Linked DNA regions of Homo sapiens: all the other regions are linked to region 4. The links come from fine-mapping of genetic effects on gene expression. A gene starts in region 4. Each other region holds a variant in brackets. All regions are shown on one strand. Distances are from middle to middle.

Region 1 (7,643 bases), 76 kb before region 4:
TTCTCCTGCCTCAGTCTCCCGAATAGCTGGGATTATAGGTGCACGCCACCATGCCCAGCTAATTTTTGTATTTTTAGTAGAGACAGGGTTTCACCATGTTCGCCAGGCTGGTCTTGAACTCCTGACCTCAGATGATCCACCTGCCTCGGCCTCCCAAAGTGCTGGGATTACAGGTGTGAGCCAGAGTGCCCGGCCTTGAACTAAATTATCTTAATTGTCCCTTCCATCTCTATAAATCTATGAGTCTCTAACTTGATGACAATTTCCCAAAGTTAACCAAAGTTATGCAATTGGTTTTCACTCTTGCAATCATTTCTAACTAAAAGACTAATCAATATAAAAAGTACAATTTAAAGCAATCTGCCAGATTTAAGGAAGAAATAGAAGTGACATTTACTGAGGGCCAATCTTATGTCAAGTACTGGAATAACCACTTTATATAAGAGATATATATAGATAGATAGATAGATAGATAGATAGATAGATAGATAGATAGATATATGGCAAGAACCACCTCAGGTAAGAATCATCATCATCATCACCATCACCATTTCATAGAGAAGAAATACTTAGAGAAGTTAAGTCTCTATCTAAATATAGTTAATTAGTAAATAGCCAAGATAGGAGTCAAACCCAGTTTATTTCCCAAAGTCATGCACAGAACCTGGGCACTTTACTGGCTATAGCATTCTGCTTTGAAGTGTACACTGTTTTGCTTCACACTCTTCATACTCTTCAAGTCATTTAAGTTTTCTGAGCTTTATTTATATTCATTATTCATTCAACCCGTAACAAGCAAGTCCTCATGTACAGCAGGTACTGTAATTGATATTGCGATACAGAGGGGACTATGATACAGAAACTACCCACAAAGAACTCAGCATTTTGTAGAGGAGTTGGACAGGAAAAGGAACACAATGTAGTCAGCATTATGAGATGTATGAGACAGGTATGCCTGAGGTGTGAAGAAGGGGGATCTGGGAGTAGAGACTGGGAAAATGAAAATCACTTCCTATGAGAATAATGAAAAGTGGAGGAATATCTGAATTGGCCCTTAAAGAACTAATAGAAATGAGCTAGCTGTGAAAAGGTTGGGAAAAGGAAAGGCATTCTAGCCAAAGAGAACAGATCAGTTTAGCGGTCTGTGAGGGCATTGCATGTTCTGAGAATTGAAAGTAGGTCTCTGTAGCTAAAGCACACAAGGCATGATAAATACTTGGAGCTGAATCTGGAAAACTCTACAGTTGAGAAGCCCTTGGTATCTCATGCTAATGTTATAGAACTCTATCCTGAAGAAACGAGGGAGTCCTTTGAGAATTTTAAGCATAATATATTTATGTAATAAGAAAGTCCCATCAGAAGCACTGAGGAGGCACAACTGGGACAAGGGGAGTAGGTGGCTCTGTGTAGAAGTAGGACAAAGTGATTGGCATCTAGCAGTACACACAGCCTCCCACAAAGTCAAAGAAAGAATCAACAATTGGGATAGAGGAGCAGTTGGATCTGAGAGATATTTGGAGGATGGGTGGGCAAGACAGAAAGGATTTTGGTGGTTGAACAGATATTGAGATACCATTGGCTGTGCCTCCAGGGTTTCTGATTTGGCTGATAGAATGGATGGTGACTGCTTCCATTATTGGGAAACTAGTCTACAGAAAGAGGGGACGATTGTGACGAGAGCCTCAATTCCATCAGGAGCATGTCATTTTTGAGTTGCCTGTGACGTTTAGTTCACATGGAAAAATGTTACTACTATTAAATATGTAAGGTAAGACCTGGTGCTACTTTTGGTTGATATGTATTTGTTGGAAAGGCAGAGTTGCAAACAGATAACTTGAATCAAACGTGGAAAATGCACCAAAATAGTTATGAATGGGCTAGTCCTGAAATTGAAATTAGCTTAACCTTATGGTGTTGAATAAGGAAGCAGGGACAAACCTGAGAAAGATCTTGAAGAAAGTGCAGATGATGGACAATTCAGGAAGAGAGGTGTGAGGCATCTCAGGGAGGAGGACAGCATGAGCAAAAAAATAGAGCATACAAAATGTGAGAAAAACAATCAGTTTTCACTGAAACATAAAAGGGAAGGCAGGGACAAGGTCATGGAGAAATCTACATATGTGCTACTCAATAGATTGGATTTTATGTCAATTATGAGGAACCCTGAAAGGGTTCTGCTCTAAGAGAGACATCACATCTGCAGTTAAGAGAGTGCAAAAGGCCGGGTGCAGTGGCTCACGCCTGTAATCCCAGCACTTTGGGAGGCTGAGGCGGGCAGATCACGAGGTCAGGAGATTGAGACCATCCTGGCTAACACGGTGAAACCCTGTCTCTACTAAAAATACAAAAAAAAATTAGCTGGGCATGGTGGCGGGCGCCTGTAGTCCCAGCTACTCCGGGAGGCTGAGGCAGGAGAATCACTTGAACCCAGGAAGTGGAGCTTGCAGTGAGCTGAGATCTTGCCACTGCACTCCAGCCTGGGCGACAGAGCGAGACTCCATCTCAAAAAAAAAAAAAAAAAAAAAATGCAATACTATGGAAGATGAACTGAAATGAGGAAAAGCTAAAATGCAGGAGACTAGTTAGGAGGCTACTGCAATCACCCTGGTAGGAAAAAGTGAGGGCCTGAACAAGGCATTGGTGTATGGGCGGGAAGAAGGGACAGAAACATGTTGAGGAAGCTAGAACCTTTGGGTTTCGAAAATTTGGTGACGCCAGATACTTAGCTACCAACTGAGGGAAGAAACACAGCAGGACGAGTGGGTCTGGAGAGGAAGGGAGAGATGATCTGTCTGTTTCTGTATGTTGATCATTGAGGTATATCTGAGTAGAGACATCTAGTAGTTATTATATAAATCTGAACTCCAAGAGAGGACTCTGTGTAAGATGATAGATTTGAGTCTATAACATAGAGCTATTAGTTAAATATAATTATAAAGACAATAATAATAAAATTATAGTTGTGAGCACTTAGTATAGGCATTGAGTAATACTTTACATTACTGTGTATGTTATATCCATTATACCCACGATAACAATCTGAGTTGATATGAACACTTCCCTTTACAGAGGTGATAACTAATACTTAAAGAGATTATGCAACTTATCCATAGTTGTGTTGTTAGTAAAAGTGAGTGGAGAGCTGAGCTTTGTTCAGGTTCTCAAAACCAGTTTTGTGTTTGTTTTTGTTTTTTAACTACAACATTTCTTTGAGTTTGTAAAGAAGAAAGATAGTACAAAGGAGAGATTGTGAAAAAAAATTTTAAAAAGCCAAGAATGACATCCTTGGTAAACCAATGTTTAAAGGACGAATGTGAGAAAGAAATATTGGCCAGGCACAGTGGCTCATGCCTGTAATCCCCACATTTTGGGAGGCCGAGGCAGGGGGATCACTTGAGGTCAGGAGTTTGAGACCAACCTGGCCAACTGGTGAAACCCTGTCTCTACTAAAAATACAAGAATTAGCCAGGTGTCACGGTGCATGCCTGTAATCCCAGTTACTCAGGAGGCTGAGGCAGGAGAATTGCTTGAACCTGGGAGGTGGAGGTTGCAGTGAGCCGAGATTGTGCCATTGCACTCCAGCCTAGATGATAAAGGGAGACTCCATCGCAAAAAAAAAAAAAAGAAAGAAAAAAGAGAAAGAAATATTTATACCAGATACCCTGAGTAAAAAGAGAGAAAGACAAGCCTAGTCAAGTCTCCCATGAAAACCAACAGAAAGACGATCCCAAGAAGTAGGGAATGAGCCAGTGTCAGCTGAGTCAAGTGGAGTAAGATAAAGACTGAAGTGAGCCCTCTGAGTTTGGGAACACGTAGGACCTGACTGCAAGCAGGTTTCACTGGAGCAGGTGTCACAGAAGCCAACTTGCAAGGAGCTGAAGACTGGTAAGACAAGAGGAACTGGAACCACAGTACCTTCAATTTCAAGAAATTTGATTAAGAAAAAAAGCCCTCAATTATGGCAGTTAGAAGGAAGGCAGCTCCAATGGAGATAATGTATTATTCATTCACTTACTTATTTGGATGGGATATATTTAAATATATTTTTAAAGCTAAGGACGAACACATAGCTGAAAGTGTGAGGTTTAAAACATATGAGTAAGGGAATATAACAAATCCTGAAGTAAGGTCTGATAATTAAATGGGAAGAAAGGGTCATGCAGCCAAGCACACAGGGGGATGCAGTGACCTTGAATTGGCCAATGGTTAATTTGTCTCTAACCCTAAAGAAAATGTGCAGGGATGGAAGGGTAAATTGGTATGAAGAGGGATAAGCAGTTGCTATTCATACCTGGGCAATTTGATTTTCTCAGTCCAAGAGGGGG[A/G]TTGGTAATTGTTCCTCGGATGGGGAAACATGACATGTGAAAAATATGGGTCAGGAGTTTAAGACAAAATGGCAGCGGGGGCTGTAGATCTGGAAGCCATCTGTAGAGTTTAAGACAAAATGGCAGCGGGGGCTGTAGATCTGGAAGCCATCTGTAGAGTTTAAGACAAAATGGCAGCGGGGGCTGTAGATCTGGAAGCCATCTGTAGAGTTTAAGACAAAATGGCAGTGGGGGCTGTAGATCTGGAAGCCATCGGTAGCTACGTGCATGGGGATAAGGTCTCTGATGCATAATGTGAGATTTAAAAGAGGCAAATGTTGGATCTTGAAGAAAACTGCTATTTGGGCTGAACAGAAGATAACAAACCTTCAAAGAAGACAGGGAGGTTTGGAAGGAGGAGTACCACAGAATCCAAGCAAAGCAAGAATACTAAGCAACTAAATTCTGACCAAAGTGAGATGCTGACATACTAAAGAAGATAAACTGGAATGACCAATTAATTCCTAAGACTTAGATACATTAGTGAAAGCACTTTTAGTTGTGCTGTAGTAAGATAAATTAAATACAGATTTTTTTCCCCAGAAGCCAGAATAGACCTGTAGCCTCCTTGCCTCCCTTCCTTTACCTTTAAAAATTTTAAACTTGAAATGGAAGCTATTTGAATATATTTAAACACTGTGAGCAAACAAATAACTAAATAAACAAAAGCAAAATATAGGGGAAATGTAAAAGTAGAGGAAGGAAAGAAAATGCTGGACAAAATTAGTTATCTTTCTTTGAGATAGAAAATAAAGAGAAAAATATAGTTAGTTGTGGAGGGAGATGAGTTTTAAGGAGCAAGGAATTCCTGCCTGGTAGCCTCTCTGTTCTCTGAAGTTGTCTACCCAGAGAACACAGAGATGGACACTTAAGAAGTGTAGTAGATGCAAAAAACAGCACTGACAAAAAAAGAGGGGGAAAGGAGTTGATGCCTAAAGAAACAACAAAAGGAGTTCAGGCCGGGCACGGTGGCTGTAATCCCAGCACTTTGGGAGGCCGAGGTGGGTGGATCACCTGAGGTCAAGAGATCAAGACCATCCTGGCCAACATGGTGAAACCCCATGTCTACTAAAAATACAAAAGTTAGCCGAGCATGGTGGCGCGTGCCTGTAATCCCAGCTACTCGGGAGGCTGAGGCAGGAGAATCACTTGAATCCAGGAGGCGGAGGTTGCAGTGAGCCGAGATGGCGCCACTGCACTCCAGCCTGGCAATATGGCAAGGCTCTGTCTCAAAAACAAACAAACAAACAAACAAAAACACTGAGTAAGCCCTGCAAAAAGTGAAGGTATATTACTCTTTTATACAAATATAATATATTAATCATACATACCATGCAAAATATCCATTATTTAAACAATAACTTTCATAATGTCCTGTAGAACCTTGCTTCAGATCTTGAACCCTGAAAATGATTGGCAGAATGCCATGCCCATTTAAAAAACCCGAGTTTTGCTTTATTAAAACTAAAGAAACACTGAAGCTCGTTAAATTTCATGTTTGAAACAATAGAATTCAAAGTAATGACAGTCAATAAATAGAGGAACAAGTCAAAGTAGGATTGTCTAGAAAGCAAAATTTCTTGACCACGCTGATCTTAAATTTAGTTACTCTTATTATCTATAAGCTAACCTAAAACGTTCAGGAGTTCAGGTTAGATGCACCCCTCAAATGCTATGACTGGTGGCTTTGTCTTGACTCACACTTTTTACCCTTTTTAAACTTTCTTCTTAGCTCCTTCGTGATTGATTGCTTCTCTAACAATGCCAACCCTTTCAGTAACCTGGGAAAAGGTTTAAAACACCATGGAATCATCCAGTGATTTCACCTGCCTGCATTTGTATTAAAGACATGTAAAGACTTTCTAGAGGCCAGGTGCGATGGCTCACGCCTGTAATCCCAGCACTTTGGCAAGTGGAGGTGGGTGAATCACTTGAGCTCAGGAGTTTGAGACCAGCCTGGGCAACATAGTGAGACCTTTGTCTCTCCAAAAAAAAATAATAATAATAATACAAAAATTAACCAGGCATGGTGGTGTGTGCCTATAGTCCCAGCGACTTGGGAGACTGAGGTGGGAGGATCACTTGAGTTCAGGAGGCGGAGGTTGCAGTGAGCCAAGATCGTGCCACTCACTACCCTCCAGCCTGGGCGACATAGCCAGATACTGTCAAAAACAAACAAACAAACAACAAAAAACTTTTTAGAACCATGTTTGGTAAACTGTATGTACTCGACTAATACCAATTATTTACAAAATATTAAATTGAGTGAAATACTACGTGTGGGTGTCTCTCCCAAAATGAATCAGAAACTTGGCACATTGGCTACAAATGCTTTGAAATGTCTCTCAAATGAACAATTTCTAGATATTGCATTTTAGAAATGAAATAACAGCATCAGATAATTGGCAGCCAAGTCATTTTCCCAAGTACTGATGCCAAGTACATGGCAGACATCCACCATGGGTTGATGTAGATCAAAAAGGGCTGAGACACCATCTCATGCTTATAGAATTTCAGAATTAGAGACATTAGGAAGGGGAAAGTCAGCATCATTTGCCATGTTAAAGCCAAGCCTTGTGCACTGAGCAACTTTTCCTCACTAGCCAGGCCCCCATCATTCCATTCTTACTTACCATCCCTTATGGATTTCTTATAAAAGCCCTACACATGCCAAATTGGTCAAAACCCTGCCTCGCTGCAGTTATAATGGCTGGCTTGTGGTCTTCCTGGTGGTGACAAGTCTCTTTGCTATGATGTGCCCAACCAGCCAGGATTTTATCCCCTACTCAGGATCCACTCCATGAGCTTGCATGAGTGACCCATCTAAAATTAAACAAAAGAGGAAAATGTGTACCTACTACTTTGAGATGAGAGGGGAGCCACACATCTCTTTCCCTTCCTGGACAGCCCCTTCCCAGAGCCCTAATTTTTCTTCTGTTATTAGATTTTACTATACCCTCTGATCATTCAGAACATCAGGCTTCTTAACAAAAGAGATTTCTGAGTTGAAATACAGTTTTTAAAATGCATAAGCATTTCTGGGACTTTGAAAGCCTCGAAATAACGTATCCAGGCTCTCTGGAACTCATAATCCATATACACATGAAGAAATGACTTGGAGCTAATAGTAGGTAGAAGGAGGAAAAGGGCAATTGACTCCTCATGTTCAACTCTGGGTAACACGGATGAAGTGGAGATTTTAAACTGCAATGTTATTGTAAATTTTCCAGTAATCTACATCTCTGAATTGCAAATACTGGAAACCAATTCTGCCTTCCT
Region 2 (7,643 bases), 77 kb after region 4:
TTTACCACAAAACCTACAGATATTAAAGCAGTTAATAAAAGAATCTAATGAGCAGCTTACACCAAAATTTAAAGAGTTATTGTCAAATGGACACACTTCTTCAAATAAAAAGGATTATTTAATAAAATCAAAATAAGAAGAAAAATAAAATCTGACAAACCTTTCCACAAACTACTCCCATCCCTCCCCCGACAAAATTCTAGGCCCAGATTTTTTTACTCACCAATTCTTCTAACATTTAAGGAAGAATCTTCTCCAGGTAATAGAAAATGTGGGAACACTTGTCTTTTTCTATAGGGTAGTAAAGGTGAATAGACATGAGAAAGGTTTTGAAGGTGTTATTAATATTCTATGTCTTGATCTGGGGGGTGGTTTCACAGAGGCATTCACTTTGTAAAATTCACTGAACTCTGTATTGCACTTAGCATTTATGCACTTTGTGTGAGTTATATTTCAATAAAATTTTGCCAAGATATAAGTAATGCAGTGATAAAATTATATATAATATAATTTCATGTATATATACAGATAACATGATTATATATTATGTATACATATATACATGTAATATAATCTGTATATATGTGTGCATATATATAACATATAGCAACATATACTGTACTTACAGACGTAAAACATTATTTTAATATGTTTTTTAAATATTATATATACACTCATATATAATGTTCCTATAAACAGTAGCAGAGCCATTTTTTTTCTTATGCTACTTCAAATGATGTGATTTTTGTTCCCTTATATGACATCACTGCTAAATTAAGGGCCAGTCCCTAAATTTAAAAATATATATATTATAAAAATATATATAATATATATAAAATATGTATATAAAAATTATTTTTTTAGAAATAGAGACGAGGTCCTGCTATGTTGCCAAGGCTGGCCTCAAACTCCTGGTCTCAAGCGATCTTCCTACTCTGGCCTCCCAAAGGGCTGGGATTACAGGCGTGGGCCATGACACCCAGGCCAGTTCCTTAATTTGAAAGCACAATTCTTCCTATAGTCATTAGATAATCTGATTACTATCACACCTGTATAGTAACAAAGTATCCTCTAGAAATATTTTTTGATTATAGTCTGAACATAAAAATTTGATCCTATATTCTTAGACATAACTGAAATCGGTGATGAATGTGGATGCTATTTCACTTACCCGTGTAATCCGTGCCCTTGTGCAGATCAACTCAGGTGTTAGTAATGACTATTGTGTGGACAGGAGCTCCGAGATACGTGCTGGTAACAATTAATGTACAGGATTGTACCAAAAAAACAAGTCGTTCATGCTATAAACTTCACTGGAATACAAAAGAATTATAGGAATTGTCTCTTATCGTCAAACACATCACTGTCCTTTGAAATCAAGGGGTTCATTGTTTGATACCTGAATTGTTTATTCACCTGTATAAAAAGCAGGTCACAATTTTTTTTTGTAGTTTTGCCAAGCAACTGAGGGTCACTAAATTTCATAAGTACAGATCACCGCTGTGCTCTCTAAACAGCCTTTGTCCTTAGTTTTAACTCCACAAAATGTCAAGATAACAGACACTAGTCTTTTGGTCTCAGTTTTAATGTGAAATCTATGCCCACAAAATGCCACTCTCAAATTTGTGTTATTAGCTTTTCTGAATCTATTCACCAATCTACAAACGATAAACACTCAGACCTAGTTTCCTTTCTTGGGTCAAAAAGCATTCCCCAAGTACCATTTACATTGAAATCTGGAAATGTGGCTAAAAGTCTTTGTGTGTGTGTGTGTGTGTGTGTGTGTGTGTGACAGGTCTCGCTCTGTCACCCAGGCTGCAGTGCAGAGACCCTTTGAGGCTCACTATAGCCTCAAACTCCTGGGCTCAAGTGATCCTCAGCCTCCCAGTGGTCTTTGTAGACAGCCTGATGGAGTCTCATGGCACAGAAGATTAATTAAACGATGTCTTTTAATTTTAATCAATTTTTGCAATCCAAAAAAAGCCTCATTCGGCCAGGGTGAGGAAAGGATGACAGGATTGTTCAGCGGCGTTTCTACTTGACTTTGTTGTAAAGTCATTTAGGGTAAGGAAACTTGGAGAATCAAACAGCTGGTGTTAAATTGGCTAAGCATATCATTTTCCGAAACTCCTTTCTGATCTTCATTAAGGAAACCAATATATGATGGGGAACTCATTCATAAGAGAGACGAGTGTTCAAGTATTTTATATTTTCAAGGATTTGGAGGCTGATGCCAACACTAGTGCATTAATTGCCTGACATTCTGAGCTCAGGCCCACTACCTTTTTGTTCTGAGGTTTTGACTGATCTATATATTCTGGCTTTCAATAAAGGCCTGTCACAGCAGAAAAACAGAAAAGGGATGCTGAGTACGAAGTCAGTTATTAGCTAAGTGGTTCTTCAGGCTTTTGTTGTTTGCCATGAAATTTGCATCTTGCAAAAACTGGATCTGTGCTCTTGGCACAACGGATGTTTCATATTTGCCAAATAAAGTTTCAGTACCTTTGCCTCTGGTTCACTGACTTCCCGTCTGTGACGTGCACCTCTTCCTTTTTCTCTGAAGGACAGTAGTAAGTCACAGTGCTCTTCCTGTTCAGATTACCATCTTCAAGTGACTGGCACTCATTGGCTTCAGAAATGCTATTTTTTTTTCCTCCTGCTTCTGGAATGTGACCAGACAAGATCATTCCTATGGCAAAATATGATTGAGAAATAATATTTTAGAGGCTGGGAGATATTGTGTCATGCCACACCAGGTAACTGTCTTAAGTAAAAGACATAAGAAAGACACAATGAATGATATGATGCTTTTCAAGGATCTTTTTTTTTTTTTTTTTTTTTTGAGATGGAGTTTCACTCTTGTTGCCCAGGCTGGAGTGCAATGGCACAATCTCGGCTCACTACAACCTCCACCTCCCAGGTTCAAGCAATTCTCCTGCCTCAGCCTCCTTAGTAGCTGGGATTACAGTCATGCGCCACCACGCCCGGCTAGTCTGTATTTTTAGTAGAGACAGGGTTTCTCCATGTTGGTTAGGCTGGTCTTGAACTCCCTACCTCAGGTGATCCGCCCGCCTCAGCCTCCCAAAGTGCTGGGATTACAGGCATGAGCCATCGCGCCCAGTCTCAAAGATCTTAATGATTGAAACAAATATAACCAATAAGTAGAGATGCAAGAAAAATGTCCATGTGTTTACATGCCAGTTTACATTGAGGAGCATTAAGAATTCACCATTCTTGGTATGTCATTGTAATTTCGTACATATTTTATTTATCCAAATTTTTTCTTTGAGGTAGGATGGGAGGGAAATGATTCACC[A/G]TAACTACTATTTATTTAGAACACAGTTAATCACCTTCCCTCACCAATAACCTTGCCTCACACTACCTTCCCAAGGTTTGCAAAACTCATTACCAAACAAACCAAACAAAAAGATGAAAAACAAAACAAAACAAAGCCAGAAACTCTATTCTGTGTAAGAGTTATTAACCTGTCATACGTGCAAAATAATTATGAGTGAAATTTCATGAATGGAATGGAAAATCATGCATTTGTATTCGGGGGAAGAGGATGCATAGCATTTTCCAGATTCTCAAGGCAATTCAATGCTCCCAAAAGGTTAAAAGCCACTGCAATTGAAATTGCTTTTTCTTCAAACACCTCCAGTCTCCTTTTCCATGTAAAGTATTGAAGTTTTAGGCCTCTGCTGCTTGCCTACACTGCAATCATTTCTTTTTATTTTCTAAATTATCAAAATAAAGGGATCATGTTGTTCTACATTTCTCGTTTTTACTTTATCCTTGTCTATGTCTGGGTGACTTTCGGAAAAGCAGAAATCCGTGTCTGGCCTCTCATCTGACTCTTTTAAGGCTGGCAGAGCGGTGTCTGCCCATTCCAGTTGTTAACAGGATTTTTCTTTTTCTTAACTCTTAATCTGTTTCTGGGAAGCTTTTAAAATACATTTTCCCCCTTCTCTTTCAGATATCCTCAGCTTCCCTAGCTCAGGGGGATTCATGCAAATTGTGTATTCTCTGGGGGATGCATTGCTGGTAGATTCTGAAAACGTCTCAGCTTTTTTCCTCCCATTGTCAAATACAATGATAATTTCAGGCTTATCTTAAAGGAGGTTTTGTTTCCATAATTCACTTCAGTTGTGGAAGCAAAATATCCTTTAATGTAGAAAACATTAAATGTATAGAGAATTTGCTCTGCATCTCCAGAGAAGCTTTTAGGATGTCAGTAATTGGAATTGCTATATTCCATCTACTAAAGAAAGATCTAGTCTCCTTAATCTATCCCCGACTTTGATCACATGAGACCACAAAGCCACCTAGGTAGCCTACAGTCTGGCCATATTCGCCAAATGTATACTTGATTTGGCCAGATACCAGCCTAGGGCCACCCATGTTTTTCTCACCAGATCCCCTGTGGTGATGATTTGTCAACAGTCGGGCAGGAGGACAATGGACTGGGATAAAATTCAAACTTTGAAAGTAAGATTTTTCAAACTGTTTTAAAAACATTTTGAAAGACTACAGTGGAACATCTCTCGGTGACTGGAAATTTTTCTTTTCCTTTTTTTTTTTTTTTTTTGCCAATGGGTTCACATTTTGAATTGGCAAAAATTGGTATGATGAGTATGATTTCATAATTTATGTATTAGAGCAGATGGAGATTAATCATTTAGCTAATCCTGTTCATCTTCCCAATCAGTTACTGTTTGCTAGTGGGAAACCAGAGGCAGCCAAATGGCTCATCCCACCAATGAGGCAGAACAGTTGCTTAAGAGAACATTCTCGCTTACTCCCAAGTTTTGCTAAAACTTCAAGTGACTGTGAGCCCCTTAACTTTGCTCCACTTGAAAATACATTTGAGGCAGGGCACGGCGGCTCATGCCTGTAAACCCAGTGTTTTGGGTTGCTGAGGTAGGCAGATCCCTTGAGCCCAGGAATTTGAGACCAGCCTGAGACACATGGCGAAACCCTGCCTCTACTAAAAATACAAAAATTAGTTGGGTGTGGTGGCATGTGCCTGTGGTTCCAGCTACTTGGGAGGCTGAGATGGGAGGACTGCTTGAGCTCTTGAGCCCAAGAGGTCAAGGCTGCAGTGAGCCGTGAGCATGCCGCTGAACTCCAGCCTATGCAACACTGCGAGACCCTGTCTGAAAAAAAAAAAAAGAGAGAGAAGGGAAAAGAAAATACATGTGAAAGTTTTTCTCAAAACCAGTGTTCTTTCTATGAACGCAACATTTGGAAATCTATTGGCCAGGTTTTTGTTAAGATGATTGCCCTGTTTCTGAGAAAGGACAGCCAAAGATAGTCAAGGGTGATTGCATGCAAGTCTGAACTCCATGTCAACGAACCAGCTGGGAGCACGTAAAGCTTACAAATGCCGTCCAGTATTGAAGTTACTTTAATAATCTTGAACTCTGGAAGTTAAAGTGTTAGGACCTGTAGGCTGGGCACGGAGGCTCACACCTGTAATCCCAGCACTTTGGGAGGCTGAGGCGGGCGGATCACGAGGTCAGGAGATCGAGACCATCCTGGCTAACACAGTGAAACTCTACTAAAAATATAAAACTTTAGCCGGGCGTGGTGGCGGGCACCTGTAGTCCCAGCTACTTGGGAGGCTGAGGCAGGAGAATGGTGTGAACCCAGGAGGCGGAGCTTGCAGTGAGCTGAGATCCCACCACCGCACTCCAGCCTGGGCGACAAAGCGAGACTCCGTTTCAAAAAGAAAAAAGTGTTAGGACCTGTAATCCTAATTTCTTATAGGGCTGATTTCATGAAAAATATAAGCTTACATAACCCAGCTTTGTAATATTTGACCACAAAACTGAATGATCAGCATAGGTACAATTTGCTGGTTATGAAAAATAAACCAGGTTAACAATCTGTTGAATTATGGAAAACACAAAAGAACAAATTTACCTTTTAGGTTTTAGCACAAAGGAGAAAGAACACAAGTTATCTAATAACTCAAGAAGATAAGACCAGCTACCTCACCTCGCACCCTCTGTTCCTGTTAAGCCACTGGAAACCCAAAACTAATCAAATCCCCAAATCCCCACATCACTGACAGTGCTTATGGCTTACTGACTTCAACATAGATAAATGGCCCCATTAATGTCAGGGCGGTTACGTTTGTCTGAAGAATATACGTCTGTATTTTAAATTGCATTATCCAGTTTATCCATGGGATAAGAATTGTTTACCTTCACAAATTCCAGGCTTCTGAGCTGAACTAAACAGGGCAAGTTTAAAGGCAGGAGCTCAGAGCAGTTCATAGCCTTTTGACAGCTCTGATGTGGTCTGCCAAGCCTGAATTGGTAAAATCCAGGCTTATCTCTCAGCACAACGCAGTTCACCCTCAGGTCTTTCCTGCTACCTGCAGCCCCCGTGAAGCCCCTACAAAGCTGGAAGTTGCAAAGTGGATGGAATAATTCTGCAAAATATTGTTTGGTGTTGGATTAGCATTCACAGATGTGGGTCCAAGAAATTGCTCAACAGCCCACGGAGGCCAAGGAAGATCTGCCACGACATCGATACCACGCCTGACTAGGTCACTTCAGGCTTGAGTCCAGTTCAGTGTGTCCCGCCAAGCCCCAGCTTTTGTCTCCTCCTCTTGTTTCCAGTTTGCTCTGCTTCTGTGAAATGAGGTGTTTGCTCATCACTGGGCAGGGCAGAAAGGTAGAGACAGAACAAGAGATGGAGGACGGGGGACTCTTAACAAATCCACATCCATCTTTGCCTCCATTCAACCTGCCTTGTGCTGGCTTGAAAACAGTTGCTGACCAAGGTTTGGAAAATGCAGCAGCTGCTTGCTGCCATCTGCTGTACTTTCTGTTGCTAGCAAGCATGGGACCATGGCTGGCTGCAAAAGAGGAAAAAATGGAAAAGTGGGGGAAGCAAGAGACCGGCAGCCTCCTCTTTACCCAGGAAACCCCCATGATAATGCAGCTACGGATTCATGTCAGAAAAGCGGCCACCTTTCCCAGCGTGAATGAACCACAGTGATTTTTCAGGACGTAGAATATACTTTCCTTTACACTTACGTGATTATGTTTTCCATATTGTAACTATGGAGGGAAAATAAATATAGATTAGGCTCAATGGAATTCAAGTTGTCTGCTCACTTGAACTACTTCTTAATCTTGAACTACTTCTGGATAAACATTGGATCAAAATAGAGGGTAAAGAAATACTGGTGTGGCTGGGCATGGTGGCTCACACCTGTAATCCTAGCACTTTGGGAAGCTGAGGTGGGTGGATGACTTGAGGTCAGGAGTTCAAGACCAACCTTGCCAACATGGTGAAACCCCATCTCTACTAAAAATACAGAAAAATTAGCTGGGCGTGGCGGCGCACGCCTGTAATCCCAGCTACTCGGGAGGCTGAGGCACAGAAACCGCTTCAACCCGGGAGGCAGAGGTTGCAGATCACGCCACCGCACTTCAGCCTGGGTGACAGAGTGAGAATCTATCTCAAAAAAAAAAAAAAAAAATTACTGGTGTGTAAGATTCTAGGAGTGAGTCTCTAAGATATACATCTAAAGATGATCAAGACTTTCTAAAGAAACCATCACATGATTCTGCCTTCCTTCCAATAGCTCAATCTCTTTATTTTTGCTCATTATTAGACTCCTTAAG
Region 3 (7,643 bases), 40 kb after region 4:
AACTCCTGAGCTCAAGCGATCCTCCCACCTTGGCCCCCTAAAGTGCTGTAACTATAAGTCAACTCACCAGACAGCCCCAACTTTATAGTCCTCTGTTATTGTGATTTCAGAGGCGAAATTGCCTCTTGTACAGCTCCAAACAAAAAATACAAGGGCAGGCCGGGTGCGGTGGCTCACGCCTGTAATCCCAGCACTTTGGGAGACTGAGGCGGGTGGATCACCTGAGGTCGGGAGTTCGAGAACAGCCTGACCAACATGGAGAAACCCTGTCTCACTAAAAATACAAAATTAGCCAGGCGTGGTGGCACATGCCTGTAATCCCAGCTACTCGGGAGGCTGAGGCAGGAGAATCGCTTGAACATGGGAGGCAGAGGTTGCAGTGAGCCAAGATTGTGGCATTGCACTCCAGCCTGGGCAACAAGAGCAAAACTTTGTCTCAAAAAAAAAAAAGAAAAAATACAAGGGTGGAGATCTGATTTCTGTGGCTTCAGTCACAGACCACCCTAGTTGAATCACATGACGATGGGAAAGGGGCATTTTGATTGGCCATCCCTGTGTCACATTCCTACTCTGTAAGCCATGAGAAAGCTTTGTGGATAGGCAGGTACAATAACCGCCAGCTTTCATTGCACCATGCTATGAGTTTTATTCTTTCATGAATTAATTCACTCTTTCACATATTCATTTCTTCAGTTTTTTTCTTTTGAAAAAGGGTCTCCTCTGTTGCCCAGGCTAGAGCACAGTGACGCAATATGGCTCACTGCAGCCTTGAACTCCCAGGGTGAAGGGATCCCCCCAATCAGCCTCCTGAATAGCTGGGGCCACAGGAGTGTGCCACCACGCTGGCTAATTTTTGTATTTTTTGTAGAGACAGGGTTTTGCCCTGTTGCCCAGGCCGGTCTCGGACTTTTCAGCTCCTGCCTTGTCCTCCCAAAAAGCTAGGATTACAGGTTTGAGCCGTTACATCCGGCCTGACTTTCATCTTATAGACAATGGAGAATTATTAAAGGATTTTTCATCTAGTAAGTAACAGAGATTGTAGTGGTCTCCAGGGTGCATTAGAATGGAGCCAAGTGACAACCATATAAAAAGTGACAAAGCCTGAGCCAAGGTAGGACAGAGAGGGAAGAGAGGAGGTGACAGATTGGGTACGTGAGAGGTAGGTCATCATATCATGAAATTACCCAATAGCTCTTTCGTCAGTGAAGGTCCCATGTATTGCGTAAGATTACTGCAGCCTTTGCTGAACTCCAAAATTTGACCTCTGCACTGAGTTGTTTTAGGATCCAAAACATTATGTAGCAAGGAATGGAAAGTGTTTTATACAAATACTTTTTTAAATGTCCATAAATGTCTAATGTCTAATGCAGTGTACAGATTCATCATATGTCAGCAAATTAGTGCTGACCTTGTAGCCACAACACCCATCTCCTATCCCCATGCCAGGAATAGGCACAATCCTGGCTGGACTTTACCCAGCAGCGTAAGCGTAAGCTGAAATTCACCACCCCTCGGTATACCCACAATCAAGGATTTTGAGTTGTACTTGAGATGAGGCCAATATGATGGTGGAATTGTTAGGGAAACAGGGACATAGGAGAGCCAGGGTGACATCATTTTCAAATCAATTCCATCTTAAAACTAGTAAGACGCATTCCTTGCCAGTCACGACCCACGGCCGTAAGATGTTTACCACCAAGGAAACAGCTTAATAACGCCTGCAAGGACAAACTCCTGTGACAACAAAATGCCCAGATGTCCCAATATTGCAAAACGATATGTGCTTTTAAGGTGACTATAGTCATGCTTTGATGTACTTACGCACTAAAATGCCAAGGATAACTTTCTTTAAATCAACAAAGTAATAAATGTCATTTTTTCGGCTCACCCGCATGTAGACACAGCTTAGCTTTTACATAGATAAGATCCCTATATAAGAAGAGTTTAAAACAAAGATGGTGCATTCCTCGTCTTGCTTTCTGAGGACATTCTCGCTCTGTAACTGAGTAGCTTTCAGTAAACTATCTCTTCTCACTGTACTCTGCAACTCACTTTGAATTCCTTCCTGCGAGAGATCCATGAACCCTCTCTTGAGGCCTGAATCTGGACCCTTTTTTCCGATTGAAATGTTTTCTCTAAACGTATGCATTTCCTTTATGAATGAAGAAATCCTTCCATAGTTTAAGCCTTAGGAAAGTGAATGTCTCTAAGACAGTTTCCTTCTGTTTTTATTCATGTCATTAGAGAATTACATGATAGGGAGGTGAAGGCTTTCTCCTGAGTTTTCTGCAAAAAGAAAAGTTTTGTTACCACTTGCAATGGTGAAAATCCCACAGTGAATGGGCACACAGTCCCACTAGCTATGTGACTGGGTGAGACACTTCACTGCTCCAGGTTACAAGCATCTGTTATGTAAAGTGAGCATTAGATCATTTCTGAGCAGGTTGACCATATAATTAACTTTCTAGAGTGAAAGTGGCTGCCTTTGAAATTACACCAAGACAAAAGGCATAAACTGGGACTATCCTGGAGAAACTGGAACATTTGGTCATCTCTCTCTAAGAAGCTTTGAAGCTCTAAAACTGTATGGTTCTCAGGTTCATTGTCTGCACCCAAATCCAACCCTTGAGATGGTCTTGATGTTATGAACTTCCCTTTGGGCAGGATATGCTTATTCTGTTTTGGGGAATAGTTCAACTTAACAGAAATGTCCATCTATCCCTTAGCTACAGCAGAGGCAAATGCTTAGACTTGGGTTGCTGCTGGGGAATAGTCAGCTCTGCCATGTCTTATCTGAGTGAAATCCAACTCCAGACATAAGCTTCTCCCACAAGGGTTGATATTCAGGTCCTGAGAGAGAATACTTTTTCTCCACAACTGGGGACCTGGCTGATCATGAGCCAGTTCTAATACTTTGTTGTTCTAGGAGTATGTTCGCCAGGCATGGTGACTCAAGCCTGCAGTCCCAGAACTTTGGGAGGCTGAGGTGGGAGGATTGCTTGAGCCCAGGAGTTTGAGACCAGCCCTACCAACACAGGGAGACCCTGTCTCGACAACAACAACAAACAAACAAAAAGTTATTTAAATACCAAAACTTTTTAAAAAAGTGTTTAAAAAGATTGTAGTGAAGACTGGTGCACATATATCATTGTCTTTCAATTGTGGCAATGACAATAACCATGATCCTTGCTATCAGTTTGGGTCTCATTGAAGGGATTACGGAAGTAGCCTATGAGCAGCTGTCTTTTTTACCTGCATATCGATGGCAGGAGTTGTAATTTTCAATTTAGAGCTAACCTATTTCACTGATTAATATGTTCATTCAGCAAATATTTAATGATTATAAACCATGCATCAAACATTGTGTGGGAGACCCAGAATGAAGTGGGAAATACAAGTGAAATAAGTGGTTAATTGGTGATTACAATACATTATAATTGGTGGAATCGAAATCTCAACAAAACACTAGAAGAACACATATTTTGTGAGATAGTTGATTTCACAAGATAGTTAACCATCTTGTCTTCCACTTCTACTATGCTTTACAACCCAGAGGAGTCGGATTAAGATTGAATTTCTTGTTGGTGGTACTGGATTGACATGCAATGTAGTCACACCAAAGTGACATCATATATGTATAAATCCCCTCTTGCTGGAAAGAATCTCAGTCTCATCCATATTTTGTATCCCTCCTCATGAATTTCATTTATTTTCCTTCTCTGTTTGTTCACACACACAGTCACACATGTGGTGTCTTTCTGGGACACATATTCATCCCTGCCTTCTTCACTGTCTCACACGCTCACTGTCCTGGGTACATTCACATCTCTATCACTCACTCTGTCGAAGTCTCTTCCACACTGAGTTTCTCACTCTTAAATACACGTGACCTCAAGTTTGTAATTTCCTACAGATGCTCTCTGTCCCGGGGGACAAATTCTCTCTCCTTTGAGCACAGGGCCATTCTCCAACAGTCTCACTTTCAAAGGCACACACCCACATCTGCAGGCACTCACGCTTTTGTTGACAGCCCCTCCCACACCTCAGGCGTCTCACTGGTGATCGGAGTAGGGACAGGAGACAGGATGGGTGGAGGAGATACCAGTAAGTCATCCGTCCTCCACCCACATTTTCTTTCTTAATTTGTTTTCT[G/T]GAATTTCTTTCTTCCTTTCTGGTAAGCAGGGAGAGAAATTGCTGAGTAGCATCGTAGGACTCTTGGCAAGTGTCGTTGTCGTGCTAAGGATGCATGAAGGGGAGAAGGCATCGCTTAGAGGGATATCACCGGAGGAGGCAGAGAAACATATCACTGTCCCCGAAGAGAAAGACCAGTCTCACTGAAGAGCTGCTCTTCTAAGAATTCTTACCACTGGGACATTTTGTTGACATAAGGCACTGTGTCTCTATGAAACAAAATGGGACTCTAGCAGAGAAAACATATCAAATTACTTGAAAGATTCTTGAGTATTGATTTATATCAGGGGTTGGCAAACATTCTCTAATGGGCCACATAGTAAATATTTTAAGCTTTGAAGGCCATATGATCTCTGCTGCAACTTCTCAACTTGGCCATTATAGGGTGAAAGTAGCCATAGACAATACATAAATCAATGTGTGTGGCTGTGTTCCAATAAAACTTTATTTATATGCTCATTCTTTAGAATGAATAAGTTTTTTGCCATTTACTAGAAGTTTCCATGGAGAGGAACAGTGTGAGTTGATAACCAAATTTTTTGAGGTCTTGCTTAGGCAGGGCTAATAAAAAGTTTTTTAAAAAAACTTTATTTAGGGCAGGCGCAGTGGCTCATGCCTGTAATCCCAGCACTTTGGGAGGCTGAGGCAGGTGGATCCCCTGAGGTCAGGAGTTCACGACCAGCCTGGCCAACATGGCGAAACCCTGTCTCTACTAAAAATACAAAACTTAGCCGGGTGTGGCGGCACATGCCTGTAATCCCAGCTACTTGGGGGGCTGAGGCAAGAGAATTGCTTGAACCTGGGAGGAGGAGATTACAGTGAGCCAAGATTGCTCTACTGTACTCCAGCCTGTGTAACAGAGCAAGACTCTGTCTCAAAAAAAAACAAAACAAAACAAAACAAAAAAAAACAACTTTATTTATAAAAACAGGCAATGGGCTGAATTTGAACCATGGCTCTAATTTGCAGACTCCCGATCTATGTAAATGACATCATGTTTTGCTCTATTTTTTTCTTTTTTTGTGATTATGATTTAACTTGAAAACGACTAGATAACTTTTTCATCAAATTTGGAAGATTTATTTATAATGGTCAGACATAAAAAACTGGATATATACTTTGAGAAAAAATTCCCTTTTGGTGAGCCATGATGAAAGATAAGAGAGATAATTGTCTGACTGGTTCACCCGACACCTGTCATGGCCGCCTCCGAGGGCCGGGGAAGAATGAGTGCCAGGGTTCTGCTGTGGGCTGCCAGGGACACCTTGTGTAACATACCCAGGAGCTCTTTAGGGTCCAGGGAGGCGTAGGCGCCAGTGACAACCAGGACATTTCAGGAGACAGGCTGACATGCCCAGGGATGTGGTGAACGTGGTGTTTGTAGACCTGTCAGGCTGGCGGATCCAGTGAGCTGCAGAGTCGGAGGACAATATTCTCCACCTGACCCAATGCCATGGGGTGAACCTGGAAGGTGCCTGTGAAGCCTTCCTGGCATGCTCCACCTGCCATGTGCATGTGAGCGAAGACCTGGACCTTCTGCCTCCTCCCGAAGAGAGGGAAGACAGCATGCTAGACATGGCCTCCCTCCTCCAGGAGAACTCCCTGCTGGGCTGGCAGATCGTGCTGATGCTGGAGCTGGAAGGGGCAGAATTCAGTCTGCCCTAGAACGCCAGGAACTTCTACGTGGACTGCCACATCCCCAGGCCCCACTGACATGGACAGCCGGAACTTCCCGGATTGTCATGGCCTCAGGGCCAAGACTGAAGGAACAGCCAAGTGTCAGCCGAGCCCAGCTCAGAGCACGTACAGTCCTGAGAGAGACAGGAAGCCTCCAAGAAGGACAAAGTCCCCTGCTTGAGAGAGATCCCATGTCCAAGCTCTGGTGGGGACAGGGCCCCTAGTGGGGTGGTCTTCCCCAAACCCCTGAGAATAGAGTGTGAGTAGGGTAGAGTCAGATTGGAGCTGCAGTAAAACTATGTCATGGGCCTAAAAAAAAAAAAGAAAGAGAGAGAGAGAGATTATTTTCTAGAGTATGTAGTGACTGTATCACACAACAGGAACAGATAAACAGTTTATTCAGTTGTGAGCCATAGCTGGATTTTCATCAGCATCAGGCTGCCGCTTCTTAGGTAGGCAACTCTCTGTAGGATGCTCCTGGTGTAAAAGAATATAATGTACCATGGGAACGAGCCCCAGGACAGAGGAGTTGGGATGTTGGGAGTGGGTGAGACATTGCCAGTGTGCAAAGCAAGATTGAGGAGCAACTGCGGGTCTACTTCTGACTCCAGCAATCGATGGTCCAACTAAGGTTTTTAATTTTTTTTCTGCTCTGGGAAAATTTCATCTGAAAGTATCTGCTTCTTGAGCCAACTAGCTGTAGGGTACACAGATGGACACTAGAGAACAAATGCACTAGAGATACACAATATAGGTAGTTTCAGATTTGCATGTTGTTCCACCCTTCATTAACTTTATTTTGCTCTTGAAATGCTATTTAAGTTTGGTAACCATTTCTTTTTCCTTTTATTGTTTCTTTTTTTGTTTTTTTGAGACGGAGTCTTGCTCTGTCACCCAGGCTGGAGTACAGTGGCACAATCTCGTCTCACTGCAAGCTCAGCCTCCCAGGTTCACGCCATTCTCTTGCTTCAGCCTCCCAAGTAGCTGGTACTGCAGGCGCCCACCACCACGCTCGGCTAATTTTTTGTATTTTTAGTAGAGACAGGGTTTCACCATGTGAGCCAGGATGGTCTCCATTTCCTGACCTCATGATCCGCCCACCTCAGCCTCCCAAAGTGCTGGGATTACAGGCGTGAGCCACTGCGCCCGGCCAAGTTTGGTAACCATTTCTAAATAATAGAATAGAGTGAAGCTCTTTCAATGAATCGGGTAGCTATATGCATCATGAGATATTTAAACAATATGTTGTTAAATAAATGAGAAAAGCAGATTGCACAGAAGCCCTTATAGGAAAGTCTCATATATGTGTGTGTCTGTGTGTACATACTTAGACACACATATGCATTTGCCTAGAAGAAAGTTCATAGAAATACTATACGAATTTTGAACAGTGATCATTTCTGGGCAGCATGGGACTACCAAGGAACTCTACTTTTTCCTTACCCATTTTTCTTTCTCTCTCTTTTCTCTTCCCCTACAGGAACAAGTATTAGAATTATAATTCAAAAGGGCAATGAGGATTTTTCCATTTAAAATATTTATGAAAAATTCAGTAGTTATGACTTCAATTCCAAAAGGAGGAATTATCCATATGCTGAGACTAGGGAGGAGAAAGTCTTACCCTACCGCGTCTTCTTTGCTATTTCTGGATGGGTTATTTGGGGTACCGCACATTTTCCATGATGATTCAAAAAGTGTGTTTTATCAAGCAAAAGGATCACTTTCTCCTTGCAATATACATTAGCTGTGAATGAACAGGTGACTCATCATTTAAT
Region 4 (7,643 bases):
AGCTAATTAAAAGAAAGGGAAATTGAGTTCACTGTGAAATATGCTGCTGCTTTTCTGATTTTGCCAGGTAGCACCAATTCTGGAGGCCAAAATAGAAACAAACCCTTCTGGATGGTGTGCCTTTACTAAGACTCTAGAGTTGGCTCTCCAAAGGGAAGAGGGCACTTCAAGTTGGAGGGAGATTTTTTAGCCATTTGGCGACCGGAGTCTTCCTCATGGTCAGGGGGAGGTATCAAATCACTTTTTCAGAGTTTGCATGCTGCCCTCTCCTGGCCTGTATAGACAGGAGTGTTACAGTACATCAAATGCATTTATTTTCCCCCCACACCTGTGTGGGATATACCTAAGAACACAAGAGAGTTTATTTAAAATATTCAGGATGTCTCATCAAAAATGTATACTTGAAGCTAATCAAAAATCTATATCTGAAGGTAATTAGAGGAAATACATTCATTTTCATTTTCCTTTGGCTCCAGGATTTATACTGAAGCATGTCAATCTTTATATCATGTCACTTTATACCCTTGTGCTTCCACCCGCTCACGTTCCATCCCCTTAACATCCATGTGGCTCTGGGACTCTGTTCTACAAATCAGTGCGCCAACACCGTCTGGGTCCCATCAATGTGCTGGCCACTTAAAGACATCTTTCCAACTGGAAGTGGTGGTGATGGGAAATCTGCTCAAGTCATTGGTCAGTGTTGAGTCTGAGGACCACATTTTAGCCTGACATGTGATCAAAATTAATTCTAGACATTATTAGGCCTATTATACCTAATATTATTAGAAACAAAAGAACTATCAAGAAGCAGCTAATCCAAGAAGAAGATGGCACCATAGGTCTAATTTTTAATTGAACACCTTGTCCTTCAAAACAATGTCTTGTGTGACCCATTTAAGCCGAGTGCTGGGCACGTTTTCCCTGGTTGAAATAATTCTTTTTTGTCCGTAGATATTTGAAGGACCCTGATACTGAGAACATGCCTGCAACCTGGCACGTTGCACAGGGGCAATTGCTGTAGCAACACTGAAGTACAAAAGTGGCTGAACTAATCTGTTGAGTGCCTGTGCCTCTGCAGTCTCTCAGTGTCTGCCCTTGACCCAGACAGGCCAATCCTCTCCATATCAATAAGAACTGAGAGTCTAATACCATTCCTTTGCATTAGAAAAAGAGATGTTTACTTTAAAGAGATTTAAAGGCATGTACCTTGTTTAAACTTTACCAAACTTATAACTCGAGGGTATGTAAAGCTCTGGCTGGCTCTACTAAGATTCATAGAGAATGAACTGTTGATTACCTCTCTCGGTGAAGAATGATAGCAAAAAACAATGAATAATCACAGCATTGTTTATATTTATCTTTGAAAAGCCATCAGTGTCTCCTAGTCTATACAAAGTGAATATAATCCGTCTCACACTCACAAAGTTGCTACCAACACACCCAACATTGCTTTAGAGTTAGAAAGATAAGACAGAAATAGGTCCCAACTTATTGCAGCTATTTTATTTATAAAAGATTGACAAATGCTCACAATCATACAAAACAACTCTTTACCAATAGAATGTAGTTGGGTCGATTAACTTATATTTATTTGCACAGATCAGTTCTTTACAGTTTCTTTCTGATGTAAAAGGAAAAAAAATTTATCTATAAAGTTAAAATGCCTTCTCCCAAATATAATATTCACTTGCCATGTCTATACTTTGACACGATTTCAAAAAGCACCCAGTTAAATCATTCAGATCAGTCGATGGGCAAAAACTATGAAGTTTTCCTGACTCTATGGTAGAGCTAAGCATGCATTTCCTTTAATGACAGAAAGAACATGTTCATCTGATAAGAAACAAAAAACAAACAAACAAAAAAAGGTCGATATAAATTCTCCACTGTGATATACAACACAAATACCTTTCTTATAACTTTCTTATCTTCCTTGGTCGGGCACATGTCTTGGGACAAAGGCTACCTTGAAAGCTAAGCACGGCTGAATGGTGAGTCGATTGCGAATTATCAGTGAATGGTTTGGATATGATCGACTAAGACTCCACTGGGAAGAGTGCTGTTTAGACGAAAGGTAAGGTATTTGATTGCCCCTGCACCTGCTGCAGAGCCATTCTCTGGCTGTACTGGAGTCCCAATCTGTTCCACTGCAGAAAAAGCGCTTTTCATAGGGATTCAGAGCCACATGAATACCAGCCAGCCCTTGAAGACTGCAAAGCAAGACCAATTTTTTAACTGACTTCTTGCAGTCCCCTCTGGCTTTTCCCAGGAAAGACTGAACTCATTAAGCAATGCTAATTTAATCACAAGTCATCAAGGGGTGGGGAGTTATATAACTATCTTTAAAATTTCAAATCAAACATGATAAAATCTCAGGAAATAGATTTTTTTAACAAAACCCACACCTCAAAATAAAAAAAAAAAAGAAATAGAAGTTTATGAGTTTTAGGATCAAATAAAATAAAATCAAACATCAATATTTTCTTACAACTATCACATCTACTAGATAGTTCCAATTCATGACTTTTTAATGTAGTAATATGTGAGATCCTGGAACTGAACGTGCCTGGCGTGCAGAATACAAATGCATTTTTAAACTCGTAAGACAATGTAGAAATAAGTCAGGTACACAGGAAGGATCACTGACAATCACGTTAAAAAATAACTACCTCCCTTCTCTCTTCTCCTTCAACCACAGCGTAGTGATAATAGTGATATTTCCCTCATGAGGCGGGTGCACCTTGGCCATATGCTTTAAAAAATCAAAACTCTGCCGAAGTCCGCTGTGGTTCCTATTCCTGTAGGGAGGATATTAACCTGGTAGGTAGGTGGGAGAGGTTCGTAGCCCGCTTTCTAACAATTGGATGGTGTTTGCCTCGCTATAGTCATGATTAGAATGGCGGTCACCAAGAGGTATTTATTGGTGGGATGACAACATATTGGTATTGACGTTATTTAAAAGAGAAAGAAAGAGCGATCACGGTCAAGTTTGAAGGTCCTTATGTTACACCCACGCATAATTCAATAGGTGAATAAACCTTGTGGCCCCCAGACACACGCCAACAGCTTGAATTACCCGGGGTGAAACCGGCGAGACGTCCACTCAGGGCTTTCGGTCCTGACCAGCCACGGAACAAACAACGTCAATTCATTCTAAGTGCCTGGTGAAGGTAGAAATCAGAAACCGTGTCTGTGTCACGTTAGTCGTGACAAGCTGCGTACCTGCAATGACGTGATGGAAGCCTCCTCCTCGGGTCCCTTCTCTCTCTCTCTCTCCCTCTCCCTCTGCCTTCTCTGAGTTCTCTAGTCCACAGCGGGGTCTAAGTTTGGTCTCCCGCCGCCGCTTTCAGTTCGACCGCAGCCAGACTGCAGCAGACGCCCATAAGAGAAGCGCGCCGGCTGAGGGTGCAGGAGAGGCGAGAGCGCGCCCCGCGCCGCGCGGTCCCAGGCTGGCTGCTCCTGCAGATGTGAAAGGAGCCCGGAGACTTAGCTCTGAATCCTCTCGGCGCTGCATGGGGATATTATCAGAGTCTGGGATTTCTATTGGCTCTGAACACCAAACAAATCACACCAGCCACCCCCCTTCTCTGTTTCACTCAGCGCTTGTTTCTCATCTAACCCACAAACATTGCAGCCACACCACACACTTCAGTCGCTTGCAATGTTTCTCTTTTCCTCCTTCCAGTCAGTGGATTTACAACCCTGTGGTCAGCTCTAACATTTTTTTTAGCAGACTTCCAATTCTAACCTTCTTGTTTATGTAGAGAAATTCTCCCTCCATCCCCTAAACCAGAAAAAAACAAAAAACAAAAAAAAAACACTCATTCCCTTCAGATCTTCTTCCTTTTGCTGATGGGTTTCCAATGTGAAGAATGTAGAAAGCCTGTGTGTGATATGTCTGACATTCTCATACACGTGCGCTTACACACACACACACACACACACACACACACACACCAGGCTCCTTTTGTTTGCAGTAACTGAGGCCAGTGAAATAAAAAGCAAGCTGAGCCTAATAACCTAAGTGAGAGCTTAACTAATAAAATCTTGAATGAATTCAGTGCAAAACACCCATTGCTTGAATTTGTTTTCTGTTCCAAATAGTACTTTGGTCATTATTATCCTGATTTTTGTTTATTGAATGCAGAGGTTTCTAATGCAAATCAGACTCTTCAACATCCAGAGAACATAAAACAATGACGCCAGACCAATTCTTGTGCTCCATCGGCTTGGTGCGTTATACCAGAAGCGTATTGTGACGCCTAAGTGCTTGCTCTTTTCATTATTTTTTGAACTTCTCACCACTGATCATCTCAGGACTGAGACTCCCTTAGTGTGATTCACCAGCCAAAGACGACTATTCAGACTCTGCTGATAGAGGTTCCTGGATGAAAATTTTTTATCTGTATGTGTCAATAGAGATAAACCTTTGGCCCCTTGGCAGGGAAAGGGCCCAAGAAAAATCTGAGATCTTACAAACTTGGCTGGGGAAATTCAGAATAAAATAAAGTTTCAGTGTGTCTTATAAAACAGACCCTCCCTTAGACTTTTCCCCAAAATCAATTTCACTGGTGCTTATGGAAATTTTAATGACAGTTATTCTTGACAAGAAGCCATTGCTTCTGAAATCTCTGAGCTCTGTTTTGATTTTTGACTTGAATTTTTTTTTTGCAGTGTTATCCCTTTTGTATGCTATTTGGTATTTGATATTCTAGTTCCAACTCAACTCACAGCACATTGGGTTGCAAATTCACAGGAAATAACAATTAGTTCTTGAAATATACTATCACCAAACAGACTACCTGCCTTCTTTCTTACGTGGGCACATTACAGGAATTGTGAAATGCAGCCTTATTCTCAGAATGGGCCTGCCTGAAATCAGCTGAAATTGACAAAGGAAATACAAAACAAAACCACGTTTAGCAGTTGGTTCCTGCTAACCACAGTCTAACCTCAAATGGCATATCCTTATTGCTTCAACAACTCCAGTTCATTCCCTTTCTTTAGGTAGGCAGCTAAAAACAAAATACTGTCATAAATCTTTGAAAGTGTAGAATGTATTTCTTCTAAAGATCTCAACAGTCTTCGAAAAAAAAAGGAGTTATAGGTATGATATTCCAGATTTTCCAGGTGGAGAAACAGAGTGGAGGAATGATAAAGTGACTTGCTGAAGGCAGACAGCAAATAGAGCTGGGAGAGTGGATGACTGCCCTGTTTGTTCATACAAACTGTTTGACTCAAAGGAAAGCAAAGGGTTAACACAGCTGACTCTCATTCCTGCCTGCCTTTGCACAGAAGAGCTAACAATTCATGAAATCATCTGTCCAACTTGGTAAATAGTCATTTATGTTATTTCAGAACGGGTCATGTTATTTTCAGATAAGTTACCAATAATTTGCCTTCGAATTGCCTTTCTAGAAAAGAGAGAAACAGTTACTGAGAAAACCAAGTAGATCATTGTATTTTGTGCTTGTTATTTTCAGGGCTCATTATAGCTCTTCATAGCACTGAAAAGACAGTGTAAGTGAAATCATGGGTGACTTAAAGTCACAGATCTATCTTAAACTTCATTTTAGATAATAATTCAAGCCCTCTGTCCTTCAGTTAATGAAGAGCAAAACTGGATGATTTAAAGGACATCTATACCCCATCAGTTGTGTGGTTAAGGGAAAATAAATCGTCAGTGTTTATTATTCTATATTTAGTCTTTTCGTCATTTTGCTACCTTTAAAAGAGTTTTTCAAAGACATTTCTTAAATCCTTTATAAATGACACAGACATCCGTAATAATAAAAACGCTTGCATCTCAGCATGCACAGCAGCGGACAGCCGGGCAGATTCATGACAGAACAATCATTTTATTTTCCACTTATTCAGCCACATCAGGATCATCCTGCTTAGTTCAGTGTGGCACTTTTTACAGGAGATATTCACAAATTGGCATGTATCCAAAGGAGTTGATAAGATGATGATTCTGAATATTATAATTTATAAGAGATGCAAGAGAGAATCAGGCATCTTGGAGTAGGAACTGAGGTGAAAATGATAACATTTTCAAACAGTAAAGGTAAAAGAGGAAATATGTTTATTATTCAGATAATGCTTCAAATGTATTGTCATTTTTATAAACATTTTCTTTCTTGATTTTTTTAAACAACTCTATGAGGAATGTAAGATAAATGCTACTAGGCTAATTTTAGAGATTAAAAGAGTTTGTATAGTAAAGTCACCCTGATGTAGTCACAGTTACGATGCCAGAGGATGGGAATAAGTTGAAGTGGACCCGAAACCCAGTGCTGTTCTGGAGAGAAAATAAGGGTAGGCAAAAATCAGGATAGCAAAAGACTTCTCAAAATTAAAGCTTTCGGAAATTGAAAGAATTTCCTGGCAAAGTGATGATTTGGAGATTTTGATATAGGTCAATGAAGTGGTCAAGAAAAGTACTCACAGTCATTTGCAGAGATTATGAAGGGATTGTTATAAAGGTCAGACTAAGTAACCTAGGGTTTACTTCAGCTCGAAATCATCTTTGATGCTATTATTGGCTTTTACTATATTACAGAATAATTTACAATTTTATTGAATAATTTTCATAGTATGCCATTAAATTTTTTAAAAGATTATGATTACGATCTAAGTATATTTCTGAACTATAGATGACCGCAGATGGTCTTTTACCCTTCTTTTGACATATCTGTGTGTTCTATGATGAATATGTATAATTTGTAATAAGAAAAAAAGTAAAAAAAAAAAAAAAAAGAAAAAGTAGAAGAGCTTATAATTCTTCCTCTACTATACAAAGATACAAGATTTCCATATGACTAGTTTGCCGAAGACTGACATTGCATTCCCAGTGTGATAAGCGTAAGATCACATTCTTGATCTTGTCTGTACCTATTCATGTGTTTTCTTTCTAGCCTAGGTTGGACGCCATTCTAATGCTAATGTTTTCCCCTTGGTTATCTCTTTATTTATCTTAATAGCTTCCCTTTAACTTATGGATTTATTGATAAATCCGTACGTGCTTGTTTTGTCCTTTTATAGCTATAATTATTTCTTAGATTATCATAGTTTACTTTTTAAATTGTTAAAGTGTTTTTGATGCACAAAGTTTGTAAATTCTTCAATTTACTGATTATTCAATATTTATTCCTCCACCATATAAGAAACCTTTATTTTCTAGAAAGTCATTAACTTTGTTTATTAATACTGTATGTTTACATCAAAACCTCAAAATGAAATCTATATTTATGATTCACTGATACATATGAATCTATGCTCTTGCGGTTCACAAATTTCAACTGTTCACATGTATTAAATAACATTTATCTCTCTTGTGTCATGGTGATTCTACCCAGAATATATGAGTGATTTATAAGAGTTTTATAGCAAAATATATAGCTCTCACTGTGTCGCAGAATAAACTCCTTGTCTATGAGAGTGCCATCTGTCATGTTTGTGTCACCCCAGTGGAGCAGAGAACACAACCCACAGATGAGCTGGGGAAATTAATAGGAAAGGGAATGACCATGTATTCAGCTCAATCCCTATATTTTCCCTTAAGACCCAGGGAGCAGGTGGTTGTGGGTTTTTTGATTCATTAGCCCATGCTTATTAGATGTCAGCAAGGCCTCTGCGCCGTA

Alleles and levels. Alleles are on the strand shown, and positions count from the first base shown. SD is a standard deviation of normalised expression in the study named. Not every link is listed here.
In carriers of allele G in region 1, the expression in anterior cingulate cortex of the gene that starts at base 3,494 in region 4 tends to be lower than with A alone (small effect, 0.26 SD a copy in GTEx).

Evidence for each region. PIP is the estimated chance that this variant, and not a neighbour inherited with it, causes the effect.
Region 1: its variant is fine-mapped to the expression of GREM2 in anterior cingulate cortex (GTEx, PIP 0.94).
Region 2: its variant is fine-mapped to the expression of GREM2 in whole blood (TOPMed, PIP above 0.99). The same link has a PIP of 0.9 or more in blood mononuclear cells.
Region 3: its variant is fine-mapped to the expression of GREM2 in whole blood (TOPMed, PIP 0.94).

What each region holds. Positions count from the first base shown.
Region 1 is chr1:240,532,189-240,539,831 of GRCh38, forward strand. The region is part of intron 1 of GREM2 (gremlin 2, DAN family BMP antagonist); the gene reads right to left. Among named protein-coding and RNA genes, the nearest start is that of GREM2, 76 kb to the right of the region's middle. The variant A/G (reference allele first, on the strand shown) is at 4,326.
Region 2 is chr1:240,685,463-240,693,105 of GRCh38, forward strand. LOC105373228 (a long non-coding RNA gene) reads right to left here. Exons shown (of 4, transcript XR_949320.2): 2 at 2,503-2,689; 3 at 1,172-1,313; 4 at 221-291. Among named protein-coding and RNA genes, the nearest start is that of GREM2, 77 kb to the left of the region's middle. RefSeq lists a silencer at 6,667-6,961. The variant A/G (reference allele first, on the strand shown) is at 3,317.
Region 3 is chr1:240,648,724-240,656,366 of GRCh38, forward strand. It overlaps the pseudogene RNU5F-8P and the pseudogene LOC100128958. Among named protein-coding and RNA genes, the nearest start is that of GREM2, 40 kb to the left of the region's middle. The variant G/T (reference allele first, on the strand shown) is at 4,153.
Region 4 is chr1:240,608,662-240,616,304 of GRCh38, forward strand. It overlaps GREM2 (gremlin 2, DAN family BMP antagonist), which reads right to left and starts at 3,494. Exons shown (of 2, transcript NM_022469.4): 1 at 3,223-3,494.